4 linked regions of the Homo sapiens genome follow. The protein of the gene in region 1 purifies or fractionates together with the protein of each later gene. This does not show direct contact. Each region holds a gene or a part of one and is shown on either strand. Other genes may lie near its edges.

Region 1 (3,500 bases):
ATATTACAGTCCTGGGTAATAAAGGATGCTGTTCACATTGTCCCAGGAGAAAATTAAGCTCGGGCCTTTATTTTTCTGCAGTTACAACTTGTGAAATCATGACAAGTTAAAGTCTCTTGCCAAGGTCAGACTAGCTCAGTGAAGGGAGATTTCCGTAAGGCACAAAATTACTGAAATAATACATGTTATACTAGTCACTGTGACATGTACTACTAGCAAACGTGAGAATCCTAAAAAGTTTTCAGTGAAACACTCGCCTCTCAGTGTCCTATATTGGTCTATACCTATAAATAATAAAAAGGCTGATAACATTGCTTTATGTAAGCAGGCTTAGAAATCACTCTCAGATAAGTGCTTTTGACCTAAATCTTGTAGTGCCTCCATCTGACATATAACCCCACAACTGTGAAATTCTGTATGAGATTTAACAGTCTCAAACTGCCAACTGACCCAGCTATAAAGCAAGCAGAGATAAAGATTTACAGTCCAACATGATACAATTAGACATTCACCTTCTATTTATTTCAGTGCGGCTAAGCATTTAACCTACTTAAAAGCTGAAGGTTTTTCATTAAAATATAAATGCATGTTATTCATTCTATGCCACCTCCCCTTACATCCTACAAATTAGTCTATTATGAATGAAAAGATTAGTTTGTTTCAGAGAAAAGAGTAAACAGGAATGGTTTCTGTAAAATCCTTCTAGACATGCAAAGATAAAAGATGGCTTTACCACACAAAATAATCAGATACAAATAGCTGTTCAGAAGCAACACATCTAAGGAGTACTTTAATCAAATATTTAGGTTACCTGCCAAAAAGACCATGATCTCTTCAAAATGCAATGCGGATTAAAGTGTTATCTAACACAAGCAGAAAACTAACCTTGGAGTGGAAGTTTGAAATGTGTTCATCATAATTTTCATGTCTTTGGATACAGAAACCAGCTTTTTCAGCTAGATTGCAAAACTGGTTTAAAGTATTCCCTCGGCGTGGGGCAAATACCATCGCTTTCCCCTAGAACAGTAAAAAGGAAATTCACATATTTTAAAACTGGAAGGTAACCAAACATAACAGACATTGGTCAAAGCATTTAATGTACTGCTCTCAAGTAGAAAAACTCAATTGTTCTTGAGATGTCTATGCAGGATGGACATTCACAGTGAGAATAATTTCCAGGAGAGATGTATATCATATAAGAATCGATTTCACATCCAAATGGCCAGTTGCTGTGTTTTATCTTTTTCAAATAATACTTATAAAAAACAAAATGTGGTTGAAAGCCGGTGTTCCGAACAATATGCATTGTCTCAGGTCCAGTGGGTTAAGCCATTGACTAGATTTTAGAGTAACTGGTCCAGGGCAGTGCCATTCACCTTGTGACTCCTTAGCACCTGCCAACGCTTCCCCAACACAGTCCTGGGGCATGTGACAACAGATGCTTACATCTGTTAGTTTTTTGCACCCTGAAAATTCAGTACCAAGAAATCCTTCATAGAGACAAGTAACCACAATTCCTCTTGGAGAGTTTTCATATTTCAGTCCTGCCCTAGCCTTTTCTGTGACCACGCTGTCAGATACAGGCTCCAGGATCTTGGTTTCCAACTTTATTGAATCCCTCATGATGGTCATCACTATAGCCAAGCAGTTCCTCATAGTATTCACATGATTGCTTTTCAAAGAAAGTGGTATAATGAGGGTAAACAGCCTTTTCTAAATAATCCACACAATCTTATGTGATTGTTGCAGTGGGGAGAATGGGAGGAACTGAATAAAGTATGTACTGGATTTCAGAAGACCATCTGACATGAAACTTCACAATGACCATTTGCTAACTATTGGATGCATGCGGATTTTTCCTCCCTCTCAGATGTGTACAGAATGGCCAAACTTCAGAATCTCCTTTTTTTTTTTTAAAAAAAAAAATAAAGATGGCTATATGCTTCTGTTACTCTCAAGGTTACACTTCACCTCTGTGAAATGCCTCTTTAGGTTTTGAGGGAATCATGAAAATATATCTGAGTTTCTTATGAAGAGTGGTTTATCATTCACACCAGCCAGCCATTTCTTGAGCACCTGGTAGTCAGACACTGTGCTAGGCATTCATATGAATATCCTCTCCTTTAGTCTTTAAGCCACTCTATGTTGTAGGTATAGTGTAGTCAGACACTGGGCTAGGCATTCATATAAACATCATCTCCTTTAGACATTTTTTTTTTGAGACAGAGTCCCACTCTGTCACCCAGGCTGGAGTGCAGTGGTGCAATCTCGGTTCACTGGAACCTCTGCCTCCTGGGTTCAAGCAATTCTCTTGCCTCAGCCTCCTGAGTAGCTGGAATTACAGGCACAGTCCACCACGCCTGGCTAATTTTTTTTTTGTATTTTTAGTCGAGATGGGGTTTCGCCATGTTGACCAGGTTGGTCTCAAACTCCTGACCTCAGGTGGTCCTCCCACCTTGGCCTCCCAAAGTGCTGGGATTACAGGCATGAGCCACCGTGCCCAACCCTCCTTTAGTCTTTAAACCACCCTATGTTGTAGGTATTATCAACTCTGTCAGTGAATGATCAGAAGCCCCAGCACTGATGCTCTCTCCACTACACTACATGTCTCCTTATTAGTAACAGTGATGACAATGATAATGATAGCTACCACTGTGCTAGGTGCTTCACAAATCCTCCTTTAATCCCCTCAGCGATCTTCTCAACAACCTGTACAGTAGACATTGCATTTTACAGATGATTAAACATACAGTGAAGGATTTGAAGAATATAAGGAGGAACTGTGGCAGAAAGGACTGGACTTAAGGGGAGTCTCCACCATTAAACAGCGGTGTCACCTCAGGACAATCAGAAAATAATCATAGAACTTTTGAGTTAGAGGGAAGCTTGGAAATAATGTAGTCCAATCTCTCCATTTTGTCGATAAGAACCTTAACCCATCCTCGCTGATCCACTGAGTTTTCTCATCCATTAAATGGGAAGAACAAAGCCTGCCCTGCCTTTTTCCCCCCGACAAATTGTGAGGATCAAATACAGAATGTGAAAATAATTAGAAAGATTATACTGATGTAAGATTAGAAAGATCTACACCACCTAACAGTGCTCTAAAAATGCTATCAATTCTCTCTCCCTCTCCCCTTCGCCCTCACTTACCCGTAAGAAAATACGTGGCTACACTGTCCTGAGCATCAAGTGTGTTTTCATACTGTGTTTACATCAGCCTGTACACACTCAGGCACATAATTATAGCAGCACCAATCATGCCACTACACTTAAGGTTCTGTCAGCTTTTTCAATATTAATTGCTATTTTCAGGCAGTTTTCAAACTTAGCAGCAAAAATTCATTTTTATGTGAAACTAGATATAATACATGGTCTCGGCAGGACAGCAAAAGTCTCCATTAGAAAAAAAAAAACAACAGGGAATGCTGGTAGGTCATTTTAGTCATTTCTAAGAGCTGGTTGCCATTCTGGATTTTTGAATAATGGAAGCTGTTTTA
Region 2 (3,500 bases), on another chromosome or scaffold:
GACTCCAGGCTGTGTGTGGGCCCCTGCCCTGGTCTTTTCCCCCCACCCCACACCCTATCTCCATGGCTTTGGTCATGGCCCGCCATCCCCTGCTGCAGGAGGGGTGAGACCTGGTCCCTGGGCCACTTGCCAGAGCCCCTTCCACGCTGCCCTCACCTTAGCACCATCGTTGCCGGGAGCACCGTTGGCCCCTCGGGGACCAGCAGGACCAGGGGGACCTTGCACACCACGCTCGCCAGGGAAACCTCTCTCGCCCTAGAAGGGAAGGACAGGGCATGTGAAGGCTGCTCTGGAGATAGGGCCAAGTACGACGCACCTTGACGGATGCAGCGAGAGAGGCCTACTTACTCTTGCTCCAGAGGGGCCAGGGGCGCCAAGGTCTCCAGGAACACCCTGAGGGGGAGGGAGAGAGGAACAGACAGTGAGCAAAACCCACCTGGGGCCACTCTGCTGGAAAGCACGGTCCTTCCTCCTGGGGTCTGGCCGTGATTAGAGAGGAACCCCTTCTCAGCACTGAATTGAGATTATCCCAAACAGCCCCTCTCTTCCTCCTAGGGATGTGTCAAAGGCTTCCCCCCTCCCCAAACTATGGACCAAGATTTATCAATAGAAGGGTTGAGGGAAAGTCACAGCATATTCCAGCAGCTCTTAAAAGAAGTCACCCAGACTAGCAATCATGCAGCCCCCACTTCCCTCTGTGCTGCTCCCTTCATGGGAGGAAGTTCTTTCCGGCGTCTAACCTCAATCCCTCTAGTTGATGGCTGTCTGATTAGCTAGGAGCGGGGGCCTGTCCCTCTGGATTCCCTGCATCTCCCACCCCTCTGGCCGGCTGCTCCCTCTTACCTGTTCACCAGGTTTGCCTGCTTCACCTGGAGGACCAGCAGGACCAGGGAGACCCTGTAGGTGGGAAATGGGGGAAGAAGGGAGGGAAGGTTTAGAATCTGGAAGAGACCAAAGAGGTGTTTCCTACCCCTACCTCCCAGCATCCTGACAGCCATGAGGCCTCACCTGGAATCCGGGGGAGCCAGCAGGGCCTTGTTCACCTCTCTCGCCAGCGGGACCCTGCACAGAGAGAACACTACAGTCACGGGGAGGCCGAGGAGACGAGGGGCTGAGGGTGTCTCCCCTTTTCTGCTCCCCAGATCTCCCCATCAGGGACACTCACAGCAGGGCCAGGGGGTCCCTGAGCTCCAGCCTCTCCATCTTTGCCAGCAGGACCCTGCAGGGAGAGAGCAAAGGGGAACTCAGGGTTAGGAGGCCCCGAGCAGCTGAGGACCGTGGCCTCTAGCACCCCTCCTGCAGGGAGGAGAAAGTGCCGGGGCAGCAATGGGAAGGAGGTAGGGATGGAAAGGAGATACTTACGACAGCGCCAGGGGGTCCGGGAACACCTCGCTCTCCAGCCTTGCCGGGCTCTCCCTGTGGAGAAAGGGAGTTAGGGTTGAGGGGGCTGAAGTGAGAAGCCAGGGCCTCCTGGGGCCTCTCATTTACTCTGAGTGGGACTTTTTAAGGGACTTTCTTTTCAAAAGACTGTTTGGCCCCCGGGGAATGCCCCTGCAGGTGCTTCTTGCTGGGCCCTTTCTGAGCCCACTCCTCCCAAGATGCCCTTCCAGGCTCCTCTGCCTTTTCCCTGTTAGATGCCCGCTGTGGCCTGCACTGCAAAGGGCTTTCATCTTCTCTGCTATCTCCTTTTGGACCTCAAAGAATCCACCAAGACTGGGGGTGCCTATCATATCAAAGGCCTGTCCTATCCCCACGTGTCGGGGTGGAGGGCCACCAACAACACTTATTTCCAGGACAGAGCAGTGGTCATGGAGCCTGGAGAAGTGTTTCATTTTTTCTTTCTTTCTTTCTTCTTTTTTTTTTTTTTTGAGATGGAATCTCGCACTGTTGCCCAGGCTGGAGTGCAATGGCGTGATCTCAGCTCACTGCAACCTCCACCTCCCGGGTTCATGCAATTCTCCTGCCTCAGCCTCCTGACTAGCTGGGGTTACAGGTGCACACCACCACACCCAGCTAATCTTTTGTATTTTTAGTAGAGACGTGGTTTCACTATGTTGGCCCGACTGGTCTCAAACTCCTGACCTCATGGTCTGCCCGCCTTGGCCTCCCAAAGTGCTGGGATTACAGGCATGAGCCACCGTGCCCCGCCGAGAAGTCTTTCATTTTACAGATAGGGAGGCTGAGGTCCAGAAAGTGAGAGTGAGTGGCCACACGGCAGGTCAGCGGCACAGCTGAGCCCAGAGCCCAGGACTCCTTCAAGTCTCAGGTGTGTTTGTCCCTGGCTCTTCATGGATCCTCACTTAATACTCACAGCAGCACCTTTAGGTCCAGGGAATCCCATCACACCAGCCTGACCACGGGCACCAGGTGGGCCTGGGGGTCCGGGGCGACCATCTTGACCGGCGGGACCCTAAGGATGGGAGGCACGAAAGCAGCAGTGAGGACAGCAGGGAGGCAGACAGGACAATGGCAGGGGGTTCAGGGGGAGTGATACTTACAGGGGGGCCAGTTTTGCCATCAGGACCAGGGCTGCCAGGGCTTCCAGTCAGACCCTAGGGAGGCAGAGAGGTATGAGTGGGACTTGGGGAGAAGCATGATGGAGGTGGGGGAGGACTCCAGAGGGCAGACCCTTGGGCCTGATCCAGAACGCCTCATCCCAGACCCTACACGGGATGGTCAGGGCCTGGCCAAGCCAGGCTGAAAGCCTGGGGCCTCACCTTGGCACCAGGCAGACCAGCTTCACCGGGACGACCAGCTTCACCAGGAGATCCTTTGGGGCCAGCAGGGCCAGGAGAACCACGTTCACCAGCGGGACCCTGGTTGGGGGAAGTCACAGGAACAGTTAGGGTCTCAAGTTTGTGGCTCTTTGCCACGGGCCAAAAGAGGAAGAAGATGCCCAGGGAGCGGCAGGGTCAGCCCCCCGGCCGCAAGGAGAGGTTACCTTGGGACCAGCAACACCATCTGCGCCAGGGAAACCACGGCTACCAGGTCCACCCTGCAGGAGGAGAGGAGGCCAGTGAACTCCGCGACACACAGGCACCAGCCAGGCAATGAGGGTGGAGCGGGAGGGGGCGGGCAGGGACACTTACACGCTCGCCAGGGGGTCCGGGCAGGCCAGTGGGTCCGGGTTCACCTCGAGCTCCTCGCTTTCCTTCCTCTCCAGCAGGGCCAGGGGGTCCTTGAACACCAACAGGGCCCTGGAGAGGGCCGAGAGGAGGAGGCGGCCTGTGGTGAGGGGCCATCCTGTGCCAGCCTCAGAGCCGGCTGAGGCTGGGCCTCCAGTGTCAGGGGTTCCTGGGGGTGTGGCAGGGACTCCCCCAGAAGACTAGGGGCTCCTCTTCCTTTCTGGATTTCCCTCAGGGGGCTCCTAGGGCAGGGTGGGCTGGGCTGCAAGAAGGATGGCGGGGAGACTTACAGGCTCTCCCTTAGCACCAGTGTCTCCTTTGCTGCCAGGAGCACCAGGTTCACCCTGCAAGGGGGGAGAAGAGGATGAGCTGAGA
Region 3 (3,500 bases), on another chromosome or scaffold:
AACTAATTCAAGTCATAAAAACTTGCATTGCATTATACAGACCTCTCCCCACTTACTCCAACTTGACTTTTGTCTACACACGGCTGGTGGCAACAATTCACAGCCACTGCCAAAGACCAGCCTCTCTGGTTTCACGTGGGCAGGTCCATCCCTGATGCTGCACTCACCCTGGGGGCACTGAACTATGAAGCAGTGAAACCACCAAGGCTGCCTCTGAGAGCTGCCAAGTGCTACATCGGGTAAGCAAGCTGCCTTTCACTTGTCAATCTTTAATTAGTGGACAAGGGGCTCCCATGCAATTTGGGACACGGGCCTGCTCACAATGAGGTCTACTGATGGCACCCCTGGCTTCTGCAGTACATAACAAGTGCAGCCTTACACAGTGGCTCTACTCTTGGGGGGGATGAAGCATTTATCAGTGCTACACACTGTAGGTGTTCAGTGCAAGAAAAAACAAATTCTGTGATTCTTCATTAAGTGTACTGAACTTAATGTTAAAATGTATGTACTGGACTGTTAATAACTCATATCACATATAAAGGATACCCTCCTTCAATATCTAAAGAAGTCCTTAAATCAGTAAGAAAAACAACAGCCATTAGGAAAACAGGCAAAGGCTATAAACATACAGCTCACAGGAAAGGAAATTCCAATAGCTTAGGTACTGGAAATAATGCTAAACCCTTCTCATAAGGGAAACGCAAATTAAAACAAGGAGATTCTATTTTTCTGCTGTGAAACTGACAGAGATCCAAACACCTGAGTTGCACTGCTGAGGGTTTGGGGAAGGCCACTTCCCACGGGAGCTACTGGAGATAGCAAGGGCAGTGGGCTGTAGAACAGCTGAGCTACAGCTATCAAAATTATCCCCCTAGACACAGCAATTACACTTCTGTAAGTTTTTCTAGATAGACCCATACATGTGCAAAATGACATATATACAAATGTTTACTGAGGAACAATTTATAATAATAAAAAGGGGAACAACCCAAATACCTATCAACTGAAGACTGGTTAAATCCACGGCGGTATCTCTGCAGAGGATACTATCAGCCATCAACAGGAATGAGGCAGCCATACTTGTGAAATGGAAAGATCTTCAAAATACGTTGCTGGGGAGCCAGGGAGGAACACTAGGGTACTAAACAGTGTATACAGCTGGCTCCATTGTATGTGTGTAAATATATGCGTCTGCCTGAACATACCTGAAAGGACATTCAAGAATCTTAACACTAGTTCGGGGTAGGAAGGAGATCAACTTTTCACTATATACCCTTTTGTTCCTTTTAAGTCCTAAACCATGAAAATGTTTTACCTAGCTAGCTAGCAAAATGAAAAAAAAAATTACTTTATTAAAACATTTACAATGCAATTAAGAAAGCACAGGTTGTCTTTGAAGGATGGGGTCCTAAGAGAGTTCATTTCTAGCTTTATGACATTTTAACTAAAACATTTATTTTATGATAAGTGAATATTAAAGTATAAAAAAGGAATTTTTTATTATTATTATTTTAGAAATGGGGTCTTCCACTGCTACCCAGGCTGGAGTGCAGTGGTGCAATCATAGCCACTGCAGCCTCCAACTCCTGGGCTCAAGGGATCCTCCTGCCTCAGCCTCCTGAGTAGCTGGGACAATTAAAAAAACATTTTTTTGGCTGGGCACGGTGGCTCACGCTTGTAATCTTAGCACTTTGGGAGGCCGAGGCGGGTGGATCACGAGGTCAGGAGATTGAGACCATCCTCGCTAACATGGTGAAACCCCGTCTCTACCAAAAATATAAAAAAAATTAGCATGGCATGGTGGCGGGCGCCTGTAGTCCCAGCTACTCCGGAGGCTGAGGCAGGAGAATGGCGTGAACCCGGGAGGTGGAGCTTGCAATGAGCTAAGATCGCACCACTGCACTCCACCCTGGGCGACAGAGTGAGACTCCGTCAAAAAAAAGAAAAATTTTGTAGAGAGGGTCCCCTTATGTTGTCCATGTTGGTCTTAAACTTTTGAACTCAAGTGATCATCCTGTCTTGGCCTCCCAAAGTGCTGGGATGGCAGGTGTGAACGCCTGAGCCCAGCTCTTCTTTAATGAAAAATTTTAAAATGTCATCAGTAAGTGGGAAATTACTAAATGATGACATATACAATGGTAGGCACTGTGACTGTCACGGAGGATGTCTGAGATACATTAATGAATTTTTCAAAAGGCTGCAAAATGGTGTGTATAGCAGGATCCCATTTTCCCCAGACAAAATCAGCTCTGTGTGCTCACCTAGGTGCACATGGACACAGAAAAATGTCAGCAGGGCCGGGCGCGGTGGCTCACACCTGTAATCCCAGTACTTTTGGGAGGCCGAGACAGGAGGATCACCTGAGGTCAGGAGTTCGAGACCAGCCTGGCCAATATGGGGAAACCCCATCTCTACTAAAAATACAAAAAATTAGCTGGGTGTGGTGGCAGGTGCCTGTAATCCCAGCTACTCCAGAGGCTGAGGCAGGAGAATTGCTTGAACCCAGGAGGTGGAGGTTGCAGTGAGCCGAGATTGCGCCATTGCACTCCAGCCTGGGCAACAAGAGCGAAACTCCGTCTCAAAAAAAAAAAGAAAAAAAAAAAAAAGGAAAAAGGAAAAATGTCAGCAGGACACAGCACAACTGTCTACACACTCGGTTATCCCCCTAGGGAATAAAACCTCAGGGGCCACCAGTAGAAGGGATGACAGCTTTCCCTTTCTGCACTGTATACACAATCTATGTGTACTGTTTGAAAAAACCATGTACAAGCACTTTGTTTTAACTTTGACATGAAAACATTAAACACTTTTTTTTGTATAAGACCAGCTATGGGAGCTCACACCTGCAATCCTAGCACAGGAGGGTGAAGTGGGAGGACTGCTTGAGCCCAGGAGTTTGAGGCTACAGTGAGCTATGATCACACCACTGCACTCCAGCCTGGGTGACAAGGCGAGACCCCATCTCAAACAAACAAACAAACAAAACCACACATTTAAATATTGAACACTGAAGTTTCCAGAGAGCAGAACTGGCCAGCTGAAACTGACCACAGAGGGCCCTTGCACTTGTCTGCAGCATCAGCCTCCCTAGATCTCCGTCTCAGTCCCACTGAGAAATCAGCTCAGCCTTTCTCTCCTATTGTCTTTGCCCCATTTGGCAGTCCAAAGCCCAGTGTCACTGGCATGGCAGGCCCTATGGCTCTGCAGAGGGGCCGGGCTAGGCAGATGCCTGCTGTGTGCTTGCAGCACACCCCGTGGGCCTGGCCACTTTAGTACTCTCAGGTGGCCGTTTCCTTGTGTTTTTCACAAGCCGTAGACAGCATCTAGTATGTGACTGTTCTCTTACAAACAGGGGATTCTCTTCTTCCTGCCCAGCTGTGTTGCACAGTGAATCCTAGCTGACTGCCTTCTCTTAGTAGGCGAGAAAATGGTCACCGTCCTTCCTAAGCCCCCACCAACTTCTCTCCACCCCTTCCCCACCCAACCTAGCAGGCAGCACC
Region 4 (3,500 bases), on another chromosome or scaffold:
TGCATTTGATTCTGTTTATGTAGTGATTATAAATCAATACATTGATTTTTTTTTTTTTTTGAGACGAAGTCTCGCTCTGTTGCCCAAGCTGGAGTGCAGTGGCACAATCTCGGCTCGCTGCAACTTCCACCTCTCGAGTTCAAGCAATTCTCCTGCCTAAGTCTCCAGAGTAGCTGGGATTACAGGTGTGTGCCACCATGCTCAGCTAATTTCTGTATTTTTAGTAGAGACAGGGTTTTACTACATTGGCCGGGCTGGCCTCAAACTCCCGACCTCAAGTGATCCACCCGCCACGGCCTCCCAGAGTGTTGGGATTACAGGCGTGAGCCACCACGCCCGGCCTAATTTTTTAAAAAATGTTAAACCAACCTTGCATTTGTAGAATAAACCATATTTGGTGGTTTTAGAATTATATCAAATTTTACAGTATTTTCCCTGGAGACTAGACAAGCAAGTAACATTTTGTTTTCTCTCTTAAGCATGTATAATTTTAATGATGCAAGCTGTAAAATTACTGATAAAAGAGTAACAGGGCTGGTTTAAATGTCACTAGAAAACTTAAAGTACAGAAAAGCAAACTTGATACACTGTACTGAACTTCATTTAATACAATATCAGACAAATGGAAAGACTTTATATGTTTACCTGTTCAGCTTCCACATAAATGAGGGGAAATCCCATTTGTTTGGTCCAGGTATTCATCACAGCTGCTATAGGTTTACCACTAGCATTTTCTAAACTTTCCCAGAGATCCTCTAGAAGATAAACAATGATAATCTAAAATGTTTATATTTTTATTTTCCTAAACAAAAAAGAAATTTTATTTAACTTTTGACACTACACTGCTAATTCTTTGGTTCTTTCAGGTTCAGGAAACAGTGAGCCAAATTAACATTCCCCTTGCCACCCCTCTTCTGCAACTAAGTAAATTCTATCATAAAAACTGGTATTTTTTGAGATACGGTCTTACTTCATCACCCAGGCTAGAGTGCAGTGGCATAATCACAGCTCACTGCAGCCTCGACCTCCCAGACTCAGGTGATCTTCCCTCCTCAGCCTCCTGAGTAGCTGGGACTACAGGTGCACACCACAACACCTGGCTTTTTTTTTTTTTTTTTTTTTTTTTGAGATGGAGTCTTGCTCTGTTGCCCAGGCTGGAGTGCAGTGCCATGATCTAAGATCACTGCAACTTCTGCCTCCCAGGTTCAAGCAATTCTCCTGCTTCAGGTGCCTGAGTAGCTGGGATTACAGGCATGTGCCACCACACCCAGCTAATTTTTGTATTTTTAGTAGAGATGGAGTTTCGCCATGTTGACCAGGTTGGTCTTGAACTCCTGACCTCAGGTGATCCACTGCCTCGGCCTCCCAAAGTGCTGGGATTACAGGCATGAGCCACCGCACCTGGCCCATAATTTCTTGCAATTTTTTGTAGAGATGGGATTTCACCATGTTGCCCAGGCTGGTCTCAAAATCCCGGGCTCAAGCAATCCACCTGCCTCAGCCTCCCAAGGTGCTGGAATTACAGGTGTGAGTCATAACACCTGGCCAAAACTGGTCTTTTATTCTGAGATATACTTAATCATTCTAATTTATAAGAAAAATTACAAATTATAATAAAAGATAAACAGATGAGTTAAGGAGAAACAAAGAAATTGAAATGTGTTCAAGATCACTACTAAACAATCACTGACAAACTTAAGACCGTTATACCCATTCAATTAACCTCACTTTAAAAATATCCAGGCTGGACGCAGTGGTTCATGCCTATAATCCCAGCACTTTGGGAGGCCAAAGCGGGCGGATCACCTGAGGTCTGGAGTTCAAGACCAGTCTGACCAACATGGAGACACCCCATCTCTACTAAAAATACAAAATTAGGCTGGGTGCAGTGGCTCACACCTGCAATCCCAGCACTTTGGGAGGCCGAGGTGGGCACGTCACCTGAGGTCAGGAGTTCGAAACCAGCCTGGCCAACATGGTGAAACCCTGTCTCTACTAAAAATACAAAAATTAGCTGGGCATGGTGGCACACACCTGTAATCCCAGCTACTTGGGAGGCTGAGACAGGAGAATCACTTGAACCCAGGAGGCGGAGGTTGCAACGAAGCCAAGACTGCACCACTGCACTCCAGCCTGGGCGACAGAGCAAGACCCTGTCTTTAAAAAAAATAAAATAGGCCAGGCGCGGTGGCTCACGCCTGTAATCCCAGCACTTTGGGAGGCAGAGGCGGGCGGATCATGAGGTCAGGAGATCGAGACCATCCTGGCTAACACAGTGAAACCCTGTCTCTACTAAAAATACAAAAAATTAGCCGGGCGTGGTGGCGGGCGCCTGTAGTCCCAGCTACTCGGGAGGCTGAGGCAGGAGAATGGCCTGAACCCGGGAGGTGGAGCTTGCAGTGAGCCGAGATCGCGCCACTGCACTCCAGCCTGGGCGACAGAGCGAGACTCCGTCTCAAAAAATAACATAACATAACATAACATAACATAACATAACATAACATAACATAACATAAAATAAAATACAAAATTAGCCGGCCGTGGTGGCACATGCCTGTAATCCCAGCTACTCAGGAGGCTGAGGCAGGAGAATCACTTGAACCCGGGAGGCGGAGGTTGTGGTGAGCCAAGACTGCACCATTGCACTCCAGCCTGGGCAACAAGAGCGAAACTCTGTCTCAAAAAAAAAAAAAAAGAATTGAAAAGAATCAAAAAGTTAAAAAAATTAAAAAGTAAATTTAAAATGTTACAGTAAGCTAAGGTTAATTTATTATTCAAGAAAGAAAAATTATTTTTATAAATTCAGTGTAGCCTAAGTGTAAAGTATTTATAATATCTATAGTAGTGTATAGTAATGTCTTAGGCCTTCATATTCACTCACCACTCACTCAACTAGAACAACCTCTATAAGTTGTCCTATAAGCTGCATTCAGGTGTAGCACCTTATTTTCTTTTGAGACCGCGTTTCGCTGTTGCCCAGGCTGGAGTGCAGTGGCCCAATCACAGCTCACTGCAGCTTTGACCTCCCAGGCTCAAGTGATCCTCCTACCTCAGCCTCCCAAGTAGCTGGGACTACAGGCACATGCCACCACACCCAGCTAATTTTTGTACTTTTTATAGAAGCGAGGTTTTGGCATGGTGCCCAGGCTGGTCTCAAACTCCTGGACTCAAGCAGTCCACCTGCCCCAGCCTCCCAAAGTGCTGGGATTATAGGCATATCAGCCAGCTGGTGGAGCATCTTTAATATCATATTTTTACTGTACCTTTTCTATATTTAGAAATGTTCAGGTATACAAATACCATTGTGTTATAATTGCCTATGGTATTCAGTACAGTAACATGCTGTACAGGTATTTTGTAGCCTAGCAGCAACAGGGTATATACCATGTAGGCTAGGTGTACATAGCCTAGGACATACTGTGTAGGTTTCTGTAAGTACATTCTATGATGTTCACATATTGATGAAATTGCCTGACAACATATTTCTCAGAACATATCCC

What was found. Proteins that work in one complex are often made in the same cells at the same time.
Region 2: the proteins of CAMKMT (region 1) and COL1A1 purify together in Homo sapiens (affinity purification with mass spectrometry; 3 studies listed by BioGRID and IntAct, with this or other methods). This does not show direct contact.
Region 3: the proteins of CAMKMT (region 1) and TUBB6 purify together in Homo sapiens (affinity purification with mass spectrometry, with the first as the bait; one study listed by BioGRID). This does not show direct contact.
Region 4: the proteins of CAMKMT (region 1) and NPEPPS purify together in Homo sapiens (affinity purification with mass spectrometry, with the first as the bait; one study listed by BioGRID). This does not show direct contact.

What each region holds. Positions count from the first base shown.
Region 1 is NC_000002.12:44,763,947-44,767,446, reverse strand, and holds part of CAMKMT (calmodulin-lysine N-methyltransferase), read right to left. Parts: intron 1,018-3,500; coding exon 886-1,017; intron 1-885.
Region 2 is NC_000017.11:50,191,632-50,195,131, forward strand, and holds part of COL1A1 (collagen alpha-1(I) chain preproprotein), read right to left. Parts: intron 3,470-3,500; coding exon 3,416-3,469; intron 3,198-3,415; coding exon 3,090-3,197; intron 2,996-3,089; coding exon 2,942-2,995; intron 2,817-2,941; coding exon 2,718-2,816; intron 2,553-2,717; coding exon 2,499-2,552; intron 2,411-2,498; coding exon 2,312-2,410; intron 1,417-2,311; coding exon 1,363-1,416; intron 1,220-1,362; coding exon 1,166-1,219; intron 1,063-1,165; coding exon 1,009-1,062; intron 898-1,008; coding exon 844-897; intron 394-843; coding exon 349-393; intron 256-348; coding exon 157-255; intron 1-156. UniProt on the Homo sapiens protein: Type I collagen is a member of group I collagen (fibrillar forming collagen).
Region 3 is NC_000018.10:12,318,241-12,321,740, reverse strand, and holds part of TUBB6 (tubulin beta-6 chain), read right to left. Parts: intron 1,206-3,500; exon of another isoform or gene 1,079-1,205; coding exon of another isoform or gene 997-1,078; intron 1-996. UniProt on the Homo sapiens protein: Tubulin is the major constituent of microtubules, a cylinder consisting of laterally associated linear protofilaments composed of alpha- and beta-tubulin heterodimers.
Region 4 is NC_000017.11:47,593,608-47,597,107, reverse strand, and holds part of NPEPPS (puromycin-sensitive aminopeptidase), read right to left. Parts: intron 756-3,500; coding exon 646-755; intron 1-645. UniProt on the Homo sapiens protein: Aminopeptidase with broad substrate specificity for several peptides. Involved in proteolytic events essential for cell growth and viability. May act as regulator of neuropeptide activity.